Linked DNA regions of Homo sapiens. The protein of the gene in region 1 interacts with the protein of each later gene in a pairwise test. Each region holds a gene or a part of one and is shown in the gene's direction. Other genes may lie near its edges.

What was found. The genes of interacting proteins can lie anywhere in the genome.
Region 2: the proteins of CRADD (region 1) and APPL2 interact in binary tests that used the Homo sapiens proteins (3 or more experiments, as listed by UniProt).

The regions. Positions count from the first base shown.
Region 1 is NC_000012.12:93,672,911-93,681,024, forward strand, and holds the start of CRADD (death domain-containing protein CRADD), read left to right. Parts: upstream 1-4,464; 5' UTR 4,465-4,562; intron 4,563-4,660; exon of another isoform or gene 4,661-5,118; intron 5,119-5,858; 5' UTR 5,859-5,864; coding exon 5,865-6,162; intron 6,163-8,114. UniProt on the Homo sapiens protein: Adapter protein that associates with PIDD1 and the caspase CASP2 to form the PIDDosome, a complex that activates CASP2 and triggers apoptosis.
Region 2 is NC_000012.12:105,226,175-105,233,242, reverse strand, and holds part of APPL2 (DCC-interacting protein 13-beta), read left to right. Parts: exon of another isoform or gene 1-3,600; coding exon of another isoform or gene 3,601-3,615; intron 3,616-4,019; coding exon 4,020-4,118; intron 4,119-7,068. UniProt on the Homo sapiens protein: Multifunctional adapter protein that binds to various membrane receptors, nuclear factors and signaling proteins to regulate many processes, such as cell proliferation, immune response, endosomal trafficking and cell metabolism.

The DNA.
Region 1 (8,114 bases):
TTTTTTTTAAGGATTTACAGTTACAGGGATAGATGTCTGTATTTCTTTTGACAAATTCTTATTTCATCTCTTTTTGGGGAGCGTTGGTCCAGGAAATAGAGACCATATGAAATTCTATGCTGCATGTCAAGAAAATAGCTAAGATAAAATGGGGACTAGGAATTTGGTCCCAGAAGTTTTCATTTCTCCCTGACTATGAGCAAGTCCTTTATGGAGTTCCTTTTCTCCTTCTTTCTCTTCTGATCCTCCCTCTCTTGCTCCTTCCCTGCCTCAAGTTGTCACACCTCCTTGTCTTCTTCAATCTGTAACAATTTCTCAGTCTTTCATGACCTTGACACTTTTGAAAGTACTTGTCAGATATTTTGTAGTGGCAAAAACCACAATTAGTTTTGCAACAACCTAACAGAATATCTCTCAGTTTGAGTTTGTCTGATGTTTTCTTACAAAAACACTGAGGTTCTGAATTTTAAAGGAGAATATTGCAAAGGAGATATGCCTTTCTTGTCACATCGTATTGGAGCACATGATATCTCCATGACTAATTACTGGGGAGGTTTAACCTTGATCACTTGGTTAAGGCGATGTTTGCCAGGTTTCTCTACTATCACGTTTTTCTTTTTCTTTCTTTCTTTCTATGTTTTATTAGTTATACAGGTGTGACTTTTTTTTAAACCCAAGGGTTTAAGAATTGTTTTATTTAGTTTCCAAATTTATGGGATTTATGGAAGCTATCCTTTTGTCAAAATATCTAATTTTATTGTATAATTATAGAGTACATAGTTTGTATGCTAGTGATTTTCAGGAATTTATTAATGCTTCTTTGTGACCTGATTTATGATCTATTTTAATAAATGTTTCAAGTATGCTTGAAAAGACTCTGGTTTTCCCCATGACTTAATTTCTACATCAATGAAACAGGAAGAACCAAAACATCCAATTCCTTTTATTTATTTTTTGAAGGCTGCAAAACCAAAGACCAAACCGAAAGAGAAAAATACTGCATTTGTTCTTTTTGACTCTTTATTTTGCAAACTCACAATAGGGATATCTTGACACAAGTAAACATACTAGGGGAGAGAGAAAAATGAAAATATCTGTCCTTCCTGTGGATTCGTTACCACTGGGTAACAGGTGCTTAATCCTCCGTGGGGGCACAATTTCAGATTACAGAGGGTCTGGCCAGAGCGGAGGAGTAACCACCTGTGATAATGATTCTGATCTGTGTTCCATTCCTTAGAAGCCCTCTGGCCTTAGCTAATCTGTCTAAGTAAAGTTGGGTCTTTGGTGTACTGCCATGAAGTATCGCTGTATGCTGAGGTGGGGTGGCTGATGGCAGTGGGCTAGTCGTTCAGCCTAGTTGCTTAAGAGACAGCATGGATCCTCATCTGTATTTGCCATGGGAAGAGGCATTCGATGATTAAAGACTTCACGCTGCAGATTTAAGTCAGATCTTTAATGGCCACCCTTTCAGGTTGTTTACCATAGGACGCCATGCCCCTCGGCTGCTGCCCTGACACTCTCCTGCTGTCTCTGGCTGCTTCTCTTCTGTGAACCCTCACGGATCCTATTGTTGGTTCCCCACCTCCTCCTGGGCATCATCATCAAGGCTCACCTTCTAGCTTCTAGGAGATCTCAAGCCTTTCCAAATATGATGAGTCATCAAGAAATATGAAACTTTATATGGGCGTTTATTGCGCTATTTGTTTCAACTTTCCTATATGTTTGAAATTTATCGAAGTTCACAGTTAGAAAAAAATCCACTTGCTTTTCCTCTCTAAAAAAGTTAGTATAGGTTGATGATCCCTTACCCAACATGCTTGGGACCAGAAGTGTTTTGGATTTTGGATTTTTTGGGATTTTGGAATATTTGCATATACATAATGAGGTAACTTGGGGATGGGACCCAAGTTTAAGCACAAAACTTATGTTTCATATATACTTTTTATACACATAGCCTGAAAGTAACTTTATACAATATTTTAAATAATTTTGCACATGAAACAAAGGTTTGTGTTTTGACTGAGACCCATCACATAAGGTCAGGTGTGGAATTTTCCACTTGTGGCGTCATGTTGACACCCAAAAAGCTTCAGGTTTTGGAGCATTTCTTTTTCTTTCTTTTTTTTTTTTTTTCTGAGACAGGGTCTCTCTCTGTCGCCCAGGCCGGAGTGCAGTGGCATGATCTTGTTTCACTGCAAACTCCACCTCCCGGGTTCAATTGATTCTCCACCTCAGCCTCCTGAGAAGCTGGGACTACAGGCGTACACAAGCATGGCTGGCTAATTTTTTGTATTTTTTGTAGAGATGGGATTTCCCTATGTTGCCCAGGCTGGCCCTGAACTCCTGGGCTCAAACGATCTGCCTGCCTTGGCTTCCCAAAATGCTGAGATTACAGGTGTCAGCCACCACTCTCAGGCAGGTTTTGGAGGATTCTGGATTTCAAATTTTTGTATTAGGGATGTTTAACCTGTAAACTTCAACGCTTGGCAGTGTTGCAAGTGGTCTGCACTTTATCTGGATGAAGACAAAGAATGGTGCTAACATTTGTCTATGAACAGATGGGAAATCTTGCTGAGGAAAGGACAATGATTCTCAAGCAAAAGGGGAAAAGGGAGAGAGAAAAGAGAGCACCTGGAACTCAAGAGTATCAAGAATGGGAGGTGGCAACAGGATGATTTGCAAATAATATTTGGCTATCATTAGAACAATAAACTCTTCACTATACAAGGTTGTATGGTGTATTGGAAAGAGCATGAAATCAGAGAAACTTCATTAGACTTCAAGTTTTGCTCTATATTAGCTGTGAGATTTTGCCTAAGACAATTGACCATTCTGATTCCACAGTCTTTATACATGCAAATGCTAAAACAGTTGTAACAGTGGAGATACATTGTGAAAAATGTGTCATTGTGCAAACAAAATAGGATGTACTTATGCAAACCTAGATGGTATAGCCTACTACATACTTAGGCCATATAGCATAGCCTATTGCTCTGACCACCATCATATATGCAGTCTGTCATTGACCCAAATATTGTTATGCAATGCATGACTGTAATAATAATAATACTTGCCACATAGGTAAAAATACTGTCATTAACGGTGTAGTAAAATGGTAACTGGCATAGTAATGCTGTAAATTGAATACAATTTTTAGAAGGTTTTGAGGAGGGAGGTTCAGAACTGTTCTCCATTGATTTGCTTAACAAAGATATTTTCATTTTCCACCAAAGGGTTTGGCTGTGAAAACCTTTGCAGAAATAATATTTTAGGAGTTTTTTCCCCCTGTACTGTCAACTGATTTTTAGTAAGCATATGACTTTCTGTATGTATCATCCAATTGATTTAAAAATGAATCAATGAATGTATTTATTGATCGCCTGCCTCGCTTCACAAAGGAATGTGAGGAAGGACACCCAATTTGGCATTGCTGTGTTTCTCTGTATTTGGGTCATGCATTTTTTCTTGCTTTCCACATTGAAAATGTGGTGGATGCAGTAGATTGGCTTTAAGTGTCAGGCCTTCCCTCATTTACTATACCTTTTTGTGTTTCACAAGCTGGAAAGCTACCAACTACATGCTCTAGACATCCTTGCTGCTAATATTCTGCATGTCAGATTGGTCTCACCAATGGCACGCAGCAAAGCAAGATTTGCAGGTGCTGTTTTCTTGCTGCTGGCAAATGCAGCCGTGGAGACCACCGTTTTTTGCAGCACTGTTCCAGTGTCCTGTTAATTGTTCTGTCGGTGTTGAGAGGAGGTTGGGGACCAGGCATGGCAACTTCCTGACGCCATCTTCCTGATTGTGGGCAGCAGCCACAATCAGCAATCTTATCTAGGTAGTCATCCATGGATGTTCAGCTCAGCCCTTCTCCAGCCTTTCCAATGATTTCGAATGTCCCCAATTCCCCCTAACGAATCCCTTTCTGACTAGGAGTAACTAGCTGAGTGCTGCAATGAAATCCTGACTGACAGATTTGTAAACTCTTTGCGGGCAGGAACCCTTGATATAAATAAATGACCTTGCATTTTAATGGAGGGAAGCAGAAGGATAAACAAATGAATAAGTGAAAAGTTTTAATAAGATGGTGATGCGTAAAAAATAAAGCTGGTTAATGGGGAGTGCAGGAAATGAGCGCAGCTGTCTTGCCGTTTTAATCAGATAGGTCAGAGAAGGCTTCTCTACTAGGGTGGCTTTTGACCTGCCTCTCTGTTAGGTCAATTGTGTGCGAGGCCCTGATGGAGTTACTGTGTTAAAATGCAATGATTCAATTACTCCATTACTTAGATACCCTTTAAGTGACACTACGGTTGTCCATCTCCCCGCTATTGAATTGTTTACCCACAGTAAGCATGGCGGGAAGAGCTTCGATCCGACCCTTGAACGCTCAATAAAAATGGCGACAGCACTTCCTGTACTTGCCCTCAACAAAGATGGTGTCAACACTTCCTGTTTAGGGTTTTCGCCATTAACAAAGATGGTGCTTATGGGGCAGGTTCCCTAACAGTCAGGATTCCGGTTGCAGTTTTTCTCCCCCGCCCCAAAGATACGTGGTTGCAGACGTAAGTAACAGGAATCCATCTTTCTTTGAAAGTCCTGCATTGTAGCGTCTGCGACCTGGGCCCTGCGGGGGCTTCCCCGCCCCGCTAACTTGCTCCGCATTTCCGATCCGGGCCAAGGCTGGGTGGCTGCGGCAGTGCCGGAGGCCCGCTCTCCCCTTGGTCCGCTCTTTAGTTCATTCCCAGCACTCCCTCTTTAGCGGGTCAAGTTGCCGCAGAAACCGCCCGTAGTCTTCCTGTTTGATACAAGGGTTTCAGCGGCCGAAGCAGAGCCTTTTTAAATAGTTCCCAATGGGCGCTCACGGCCAAACGTGAACACCTCCCCTCCTCACCTGTCACCTCCTGAACTTTACAGGGTTGCGAGGGGGAGTGTGGGATCGGGTGTCGCCTAGCCGTGGTCGTACTGCCCGGGTGTGTCTGAAGCCCCATCTGTCATCCCTGCCTGCCTTCCCGGTCACTTAACCTTCACTGCCTTACACACAACCAAGCCACAGCACACTGGTGCAGGGGTGGTGGAACTGCACCTTCAAATCGTGCCTGGCTACTGACCAGTGCTGGGGTGTGTGCTTTTTTTGAAAGAAAAAAATCCCATAAAATGTCCCATGCATGTGCGGCCACGACAGTGTTGTGCTGGAGATTCGGAATTCTTAGTGGGAAGGAATGGAGTCTGTGACTGTATATTGTGTAAAGTTTATTGTAGACTGGGCACAAACAACAATTTTCTTAAAGGTGATCGTGTAGAGGACTTTTAGCGAAAAGAGCCTTAAATTCTGAACCTGCTGATTTCTGTCCTGCACTCCTATTACTGATCAGGTTTTGCAAATACTTGTGATCAAAAAAAGGGGACCTGCGTCCACCTTGGCAGTTTCTGCCTTGGTGGTGGTGGTGCAGGTCTGATGAGGGCAATGTGAAAATAAAACCACCATTTCTTCTCCAGCGTGTTAAAATTAGTGCTGCTCTGTAATCTTCAGATAAAAATTGCTTGTTCAGAAGGGTCTCTGACCCACTTTTTTTTTTTCTTTTTCCAAATTTCTTTATTGAACGAGGAATTGAGCTGGGACCCCATTGTGTGAAAAGCAGAAACAGAAAAGATGATTCATCTTCATTGTTGTTCATTATGTTAGGAAACATTCAAAATTAACCTGGCTTGGCTTAATCAGTGAATTAAATACCATGACCTGGCAGTCTGCTATGGTTTAAAGATGTGCTTGACCTGAAGGAACTTACATTGCAGTGACACTGTCTTTAGGGCCACATCAACATGTCTGTAATTTGAGCTGTGATTTTGGCTCTTTCCAGGGAGAAATGGAGGCCAGAGACAAACAAGTACTCCGCTCACTTCGCCTGGAGCTGGGTGCAGAGGTATTGGTGGAGGGACTGGTTCTTCAGTACCTCTACCAGGAAGGAATCTTGACGGAAAACCATATTCAAGAAATCAATGCTCAAACCACAGGCCTCCGGAAAACAATGCTCCTGCTGGATATCCTACCTTCCAGGGGCCCTAAAGCATTTGATACATTCCTAGATTCCCTACAGGAGTTTCCCTGGGTCAGGGAGAAGCTGAAGAAGGCAAGGGAAGAGGCCATGACCGACCTGCCTGCAGGTAGGCCTCAGAAAGATCACTTTGAACCAGCTCCAAAATGTTGTAACTATGCTCTTTGCTTTTTTGTTTATTTGTTTGTTTGTTTTTGAGACAGAGTCTTGCTCTGTTGCCCAGGCTGGAGTGCAATGGTGTGATCTCGGCTCACTGCAACCTCTGCTTCCTGGGTTCAAGCAATTCACTTGCTTCAGCCTCCCGAGTTGCTGGGAATACAGGCATTTGCCACCATGCCCTGCTAAGTTTTGTATTTTTAGTAGAGATGGGGTTTCATCATGTTGGCCAGGCTGGTCTCGAACTCCGTACCTCAGGTGATCCACCCACCTCCGCCTCCCAAAGTGCTGGGATTACAGACGTGAGCCACCACACCTAGCCAGAACTATGCCCTTTGGATTTGAAGTTGGGATGTAAGGCAGGACAAGGGTCAATGGTTGATGAAAGTGGGTAAGGATTTGGGACTGAAGGGACATGACGTTGGAGGAATAGGATCAGGAGGTGGCATTAGGAAGTGCAGGGAAGGAAGAATGAACCGTGACTGGGAGGTGAGGGAGGGAGCTCAGAGAATGCATTTAGAAATGCTTCCAGGAAACCTGGCATGTCACTTGGGAAGCATGTTCTCATCAGAGAGCCAGGTCATATCTCAGCCGTTGGCATCAGGAGCCATTTGGAAAGTGCAGATGGGAAAGCAGGCATTCGGCCTACTGACAACTGATTTGTGAGGTGCCAGAGCTACCAGCTGGAAAAGGTCAGATTCATGGAGGAGGAGACAGCCTCTAGGAAGGCATGCCCTGCACCTGTCCCCTGGGCTGTCCTGTGTGGCCAAAGGGGATTATTTTGAAGGCTGACTTAGTTTGTTTTTAAAGGTTATTCGTTTAAAGTGTCCTTTTTAGTTTAGCTTTGTTCAGACACTGGAGTATTTAATTTTGCAAAGAGCAATAGTTTGGGGAGGGTCTCAGTTTAATTTGAAGGAGAATTGGAAGCTGGAGAAGAGAGAAACAGTTCTGGTTCTGTTAGCCTGGCTTGTAGCAGGAAGAAGATGTGATATGGAAACACTTGCTTTTTCTTAACCTCCCTTGACTCTGTTTCACAAAGATAGAGGGGCAGAGAACTGAACTGGCAAAAATTAAAAATTGAAAAAAAAAAGTAATTGAAAGTTGGCTTGCAAATTTTTAACAAAGTTAGAGAATCAAGGTTCTCTGGGGTTTCTGATAAGAGTGATAGAACTATTCCGGTTCAGTGGGCCCCAGACTTCGTGGTTGCTATTTTTTAAATACTGGTTAAAAAAAATGAATACTGATAATAAGACCACTTTTACTATTTTTGCTCCATGGACCTCATATTTTGACATATGTCTGAATACCTGATCAGCATGACATAGCCAGCTAACTTTAGGAAGACCTGGTAAGATCCCAGTGGAAAAAGCAAAAGTATTTTCATTCCTAGTCTGGGCTCGTTACAGTTAAATGTATCTTTAGGCTTTTTGAAATATTAGACATAGCTGGCTTTTGAGGACCACTGGAATTCACTGCTTGGATTGTCCTTACAAAATTAAATACTCCACATGTCTGAACAAAATGTATCTAGATGTTTTTATGACTTTATTGAAAGCAGAATAGATAACATAGAGTTGGAGAAATGTTAAAAAATTATTGGTGTTTTCCTGATATTTGACTTAGAGGTTTCTGCTGGCATCATATAGTTGGAAACAACAAAACAGGTGAACTGAAAGCCTTTCACTATCAAAATACTGAATTTAATTTTATGGTCATTTTGGGTGATACAGATCATGCTGTTGTATGTCATTCGTAGAGGTATAATACCATTTTTTTTTTTTTGAGACGGAGTTTCACTCTTGTTGCCCAGGCTGGAGTGCAATGGCGCGATCTCGGCTCTCTGCAACCTCTGCCTCCCGGGTTTAAGCAATTCTTCTGCCTCAGCCTCCCGAGTAGCTGGGATTA
Region 2 (7,068 bases), about 12 Mb from region 1:
AGTGACTACCCTTGACTGGTTCACAGTTTGTTCCAGAGACAGATAATGAGGCAACAGTTCCAGTACAGTGTGAATCCTGCTGCGATAGGAACACAAATGCAGCTTTGAGCTCCTGCAGCTTGTACTTCTTCAGGGGCTTATTCTCTTGTCCTGTAAGTAGTACACTTTTGAGGTAAGGTGAAGACAACAGCACTGTTGCTTGCTCGGTTTGTGTTTTGTTTGTTTCTTTTGCGATTGGCATAACGGAACAAAGAAATAAAAGATGTAGTTCTGAGGTTATGCAGTTGAGTGGCCCGGCTGGGAGCAGCCCTCTCCAACCAAATCAGGCCTTTCTTTCCTCAAACAAGATAATCTCAAAACATAACCTGGTGGTTTTATATGTCTTCACTGTGGAGATGTTTTGTGCTGTTCCTCTTTTTGTTTATAACCTATTTTTCCTTTCAATAGACTTGGTTCTTTTTTTTTTTTTTTTTTTTTTTGAGACAGGGTCTCGCTTTGTTGCCCAGACTGGGGTGCAGTGGCATGAACACGGCTCACTGCAGCCTCAGCCTCCTGGGCTCAAGCGATCCTCCCACCTCAGCCTTCTGAGTAGCTAGGACTACAGGCATGCATCACCACGCATGGCTAATTTTTTAATTTTTGTAGAGACAGAGTCTTGCTGTGTTGCCCAGGGTGGTCTTGAACTCCTGGGCTCAACCAATCTTCCTGTCTTGGCCTCCCAAAGTCTTGGTTCTTTTCACTAGGACATTCTCTTCCTCCACCAAATTATGGAGATAAGAACTTTGTTTATAACCTTAAAATTTTCTCAGTAGTCAGTGGTGTTAACATTGGGCCACTACACAATTACACACACTATTCTTGAGAATGTCTAGGAGTGTTTTATTAGGTAATACCCAGTTTCTTTAAGGTAAAGGAGTGATAGGGAGCTGAGGCTGTGTGCATAGGGTGCTTGGATTTGTTTCTCTGGCCGAGCATACCCTTAAAAGTGTCGGGCAGTAGAAAATGGATGGAATTCCACTCCTGAATCTGCTACTGTTACTTTTGGCAAGTTACTCAATCTCTCTGAGGTTGTGTTTGGAGGTATGTAAAATAAAAATAAAAATAGCTATTTAGTTGAGTTGTTAGGAAGAACAAGTAACATATGTAAAGTGTCTCCATGCTGGCATGCCATAGTAACCCCATAAATGATTGCTGTTGTTATCTTTGTAAGTGAGATATACCAGTGTCTTTCTGACCGTGTCTTTCTGACCGTGGGATTTTGAGCTACTGGTGTGCCTTTGCTTTATTCTTGGTCTCATTCCTTCTTTATGTCTCAGAATATCTCTGTTGTTCCAAACCAAAGTTTGAGCAGACACAGTATAGTAAATGAGGATAGCCAGTGTCCAAGGTAGCTGGTTATATTTTTTCCAGAGGTGATCACTGCCAAGTTAAATTAAAAAGGGAAGACCAGAGTTTCCCTGTCAGTTCTAATGGGCATCACAGTTGCATTTCCACGATATAAGGAAAAAGGACACTTGTGATGTAGTTCTCTGGCAGGTATTGTGGGCGGGAACATGGTAGTAGCATCCAGCTCCAGTCTGCCCCTGTCCTGCCTCCAGTCAGGGCTGTACGCTGTGGACCAAAGATCATGCTCGCTGATGAGAGCCACCCTGCTGGTGACCTCAGTGCTGCCGACCCATTTACATCCCAGCCCTGCCACATTCCTACAGTGGGAGGTTGAACACATTTCTTAACCTTGATGAGCCTCAGTTTCATCATCAGTAAAATGAAGTTAATGGAACCATGGAATCTACCTTGGAGAGTTGCTAGAAGAATTAAATGAAGTCACATATGTTTAGTGCCCAGCACAGCGTCCAGCACATAGGTGGTACAGAGTAAGTGGTAATTTTAGTTTTCTTTCTACCCTCTTTGTGGAGGACATTCATGCAAACCCTCTCTTTCCCTTTTTACCTCTTTTCTTCCAGTCTGTTTTTATCCCTTAGAGTATTAAATGCAATAAACAGGATTTGGCTAAATGGACATAGTAGTATTTTTGAAAAAACTAGCCACAATCCAGTTATATCACTTCTCATTCTCCTGAATCAGTGTGTTTAACCTACTGGTTGACATCCATTAGTAGATTATGAAATCCAGTGGGTCACAACCACAATTTTTGTTTATAAATGGAATAGACTAAAATAGGAAAAAGCCACAATGTGTATGCATATTATCGATAAATATTGTTTGGGAAAACCTTTGTTCAGGTCCTGATGTATTTCATACTGTGATTATGAATTTTTGAAAGTTCAGAGAGCTCTTCTAACACAAATTATACACTGTACAAATTCTGTGTTGTTTTTCTTTCACTGAGAGCTTTTTTAAACATGATGTTACAATTTCCTTATTCATTATTGCACAGTGGCTCTTCTATGGATAAGCATTGGTACTGAAGACAGTACATTAGTCCTGGTGTTTTTAGCCCGGAAGACTGGGCAAAGCGGGATAAGCATGCATTGCTGTGAAGCGCATCAGAGTTTTGGAGCAGAGTCTGGGTAGAGCATGTGTGGTGGGAGGTAATGATCCCAATGCATAGGTTCTTATTCTAGTTTTTTGAGGGTGCTTTGGGGTCAGTTACTGTTCCTTTACCTGAAATAAGTTAGAAAAAGAAAAGGAGGAATTGCAATTTATTTGCAGGGAAATAATGAGCCTTAGTGAGTTGTATTTGGTAAAGTGCTTTGATATCACCTCAAAGGCATTCCTGAAATTATTCTTCATTCTATGCCTAATGGGTTATATTTTGAAGTTGTGATCCAATTATTGCTAACATAGTACTTTAAATTCCCACTGTGCTGGGCACATTAACGAAAATCCCTTGAGTAGATCTGCCTCTGTGCACCTTAATTCTTGTTCGTACACCATCCAGTATGTAAATATTTCTCTAGTGCTTTTTGTGTTCTGAGCACCGTGGATGAAAATGATAGGAAATGCCTTTCAGCTTATGACTTTGCTCAGCTGCTCTCTGAGCACTGAGGAGTTTGTCTTCCTAAAAACGGTAAACTAGCATTCTTATTAAGTTGCTATTTGAGTTTTATGTCCAGAGCTGCTGCTGGTGGGCCCAGGGGTTGTGAAATTTCTTGGCCGTGAGTTTGAAAATGGTTGAATAAAATATAATTAAAAACAAGCAGGCCAGGTGCGGTGGCTCACACCTGTAATCCTAGCATTTTGGGAGGCCATGGTGGGTGGATCACCTGAGGTCAAGAGTTTGAGACCAGCCTAGCCAACATGGTGAAACCCTGTCTCTACTAAAAATACAAAAAATTAGCCAGGTGTGGTGGTGGGTGCCTGTAATCCCAGCTACTCAGGAGGCTGAGGCAAGAGAATCCCTTGAGCCCGGGAAGCAGAGGTTGCAGTGAGCCGAGATCGCACCATTGCACTCCAGCCTGGGCAACAAGAGCGAAACTCCATCTCAAAAAAAGAAAGAAAGAAAGAAAAAGAAACAAGGAAATCGTAGTACCATAAGAGGAAAGAATGACACACTCCTACACTCCTGCAAGACATCCAAGATTACAAAAAACCAGACTGCTGGTTCCTGCTGGGATGATCACACTACAGCTGTGCTAGATGACCACACCCCAGGTACACAGATAGGCCTGACCTGTGTTTATCTTATGGACTTGAGAGGAGAGGCTGCCCTTTTAAACACTTTTTTTATTGGATAGACTTTACTGGTGCTTAGGTAGGGGCTAAAGTCAGAACAGATAATAGCCCTTCAGTCATAATCTTTTAAAAACTGGCTTTTCTGGCTCCAATTCTGAAATTGCCCTGACACTGTAGTCTAAAGGATTAGAAAGCGAGCTCTAAACCAGAGCTCCAGGAATCAAATGGTACTGGTACTATCAATAAAAGAAGCCAGGGAACCAACAGGTACCTTTCTTTCCTCGCATTCTGGTTTCTGCATGTGCGGGTGTGTGGATCTTCCTCCTCCTCTGTAACTTTTCCACTTAGAAATGAAATTGACCTTTTTTCTTCTTTTCTTCCAGACTCGCTCTTTACTGAGCGTGTTTGAAGAAGATGCTGGCACCCTCACAGACTATACCAACCAGCTGCTCCAGGCAATGCAGCGCGTCTATGGAGCCCAGGTATGCTGCCACCCCTCACCTGGATACCGCAGAGTGGGCATTCTCTCCCCTCATCCTGAACTTCCCTCAGAGGTTGAGAAATTGGAATCCGAAAAACATCATTTAAGATTTTGAAACAAAATCAGAACTGTTTTCTCACTACTTTTCACCTCAAAAACCTAAGGACAGTCTGTTCTCATTGCTTAAGAGTGATTTGTCTTTAATTAGAACCATTAGAGATGGGCCACATAACTGCTCCTAATTTTTTTTTTTAAATTCAACCCAGTGGGAAACATTTGAGTCTCCTCTTCCTACTTGTGAATAAGTGGGTCCAGTATTTTGACACATACTCTTTGTCTTTTTCATAAATGGGCAGAGTCTTAGATGTCAGTGTGGGAGGGCAGAGATGTTTTTTCAACTGCTTCCTCTGAAAAGACTTGAGTCACAGTTCTGAAACTATCGGGTGGCTTCTTTGTTTGTGGAACAAATATCTCTGGCTTGCAAAAGCATGCAAAAGAAATTGCTGAGTAGCAAAAGTGAATCTTTTTAATGTCAAGAAGTGCCCATGTATGTTGCTTTCTAAGAGAAGATTTATGAGTTACTTAAAAATAAAATGCTTTATGTTACAAAGCATTGAACACATCACAATATTATGGTAACTGATCATTTTCATTGTTGATTCCTTGCTGACTTAAATCTTATGTGTTGATATTTTTCTCATTAATAATCTCTTAAGGAATATAGATTGGGCATCCCAAATTTGAAAATCCAAAATCCGAAATGCTCCAAAATCTGTAACTTTTTGAGTGCTGACACGACACATAAACGAAATGCTCATTGGAGCATTTTGGAGTTTTGGATTTGGGAAGCTCGACTGATACAGCAAATACTTCAAAATCTGAAAAAATCCTAAATCCTTCTGGTCCCAAGCATTTCAGATGCAGGGTACTTAACCTATACCACATTCAGTAGTATATAGCTCTTACTAATATATATAGTCATTTCTTATTACATAGGTTCACCACTCTATTACTGCTCATTGTTTTATTAGTCATTTCCCATCATATGGGAATAAGACTCAGTCCTTGCCGTTGGGGAGCTGACAGTTGGGTTGGGAGGCAGACAAAGCAATCACCAGAGAGCCTTAGAGGGGCCAGGAGAGGAGAGCCACCTAACCTAGTGGGGTTGTGCTGGGCACGCAAAAGGAGGGTGATTGTAAGAGTTGAGATTTATTGAATACTTAATAGCATCCAGGAACTTCCAGGGGCTTTTATGTTGATTATTTTATTTAAATTCCCCTAACAACTCTGAGGTGGGTATTGTTATTGTTATTATGCCTATGGTATTGGTTGGGAGACTTAAGGATTCTGATGGTGAGAAACTTGTCCAGGTGCACCCATTTAATTCATGGCAGAGCAAATCAGCTGGAGCCAAGCTGAGACTCTTCACTCCTAAGCATAGGGGAGGTGGCAGTAGAAGTGGAAAGAAGCAGCTGTACTTGAGAGGTATTTAGGAGGTGGATTGGTGATTGATTGGGTATGAAGGGGTCAGGTGGTAAAGGATGAATCAAGAATGATGTTCAGGTATTCATCTGGAACGGCAGGGTGGATACATGGGAGAACACAGGAAGAGGCGCAGGGTGCGTATGAGTGTGTGTGCGTGCCTGTGAGTGCATATCTGTCATGGGGATGCCCAACTGTAATTCTCTCTGGAAACACTGATTTTGAGGAGTTCATGGGACATCAAAGTGGATAAAGAGATCTTGTTGAAAGTTCAGATCCAGAGTACAGGGCTGGAGATATAGATAGGCAAACTATGCAGTAAGGTATAAGTGTAACTTATTAATTAGAACTAGCTTTGGGCTGGCCTGTAATCCCAGCACTTGGGAGACCAAGACGGGAGGATTGCTTGAGGCCAGGAGTTTGAGACCAGCCTAGTCAATATAGTGAGGACCTGTATCTACACAAAATTTTTGTAAATATTAAAAAAAGGACTAGAGTCTTTTTTTTTTATTTTTAATTTTCAGAGACAGGGTCTTACTCTGTCACCCAGGATGGAGTACAGTGGCATGATTATACCTCACTGTAGCCTCTAACTCCACGGCTCAAGTAATCCTCCTGCCTCAGCCTCCTAAGTAGCTAGGACTACAGGTGCACACCACCACACCCAGCTAATTTTTTTTCTTTTTGATTTTTGGTAGAGATAAGGTCCTACTATGTTGCCCAGGCTGGTCTGAAACTCCTGGCCTCAAGTGATCTGTCTTAGCCTTCTGAGTAGCTAGAACTAGTTTTAATGACCAAAAGAATTATGTGTTCACCTGTGATTTTATGTGTTTTGTTAAGACATTCAGAATTTAGAGAAATGAGAACTTCGTCAATTTTTGTTTTTGTATTTTTCCCTAAATATTCTAGATTTAAGAAAACAGGAATGTTCTTACTGGGCTTATACCTGAAATTGCTTGCTATTCAGCAATTTGTATTTCGTCACTAAGTGATTTGTCTCTTATTTAAGGCTTAAAAACCCAAGACGTGAGAGACTGTGTCTCTGTCACTCTGAGGAGTCTCTGTTCTGCCTTTCGGTGTCTGTCAGAATCATCTACTTGGGGTTATCCAAACGCTGTCTCATGCATTTTTTTCTGTTGAGGCAGAAAACGACATTTTGCCAAAATTAAGTGGGTCTTTCCTTCCTAGAGGCTGTAACCCAGCTTTTAATGCGCAGCATATGATCATCACGTGGGTTCTCCTGCTGGCCAGAAACCCTTCCTCCTGCCTCAGCGTTTCCTGCAGCACAGGCTGGTGAGAATGTCTGGTTAGTGCTGCCAGATTCAAAGACAGAGTCAAGCAGTGATCAGCTGTGTTCAGATTGGCTGGGCCAAGGACACTTGGTTTTTCAGGTTTCTTTGAAAGCTTAGGTGTTTCGTTTTGTTTTTAATTGAAGAAAGAAATCTTTTCTGATTCCTGTTTTGATCTGT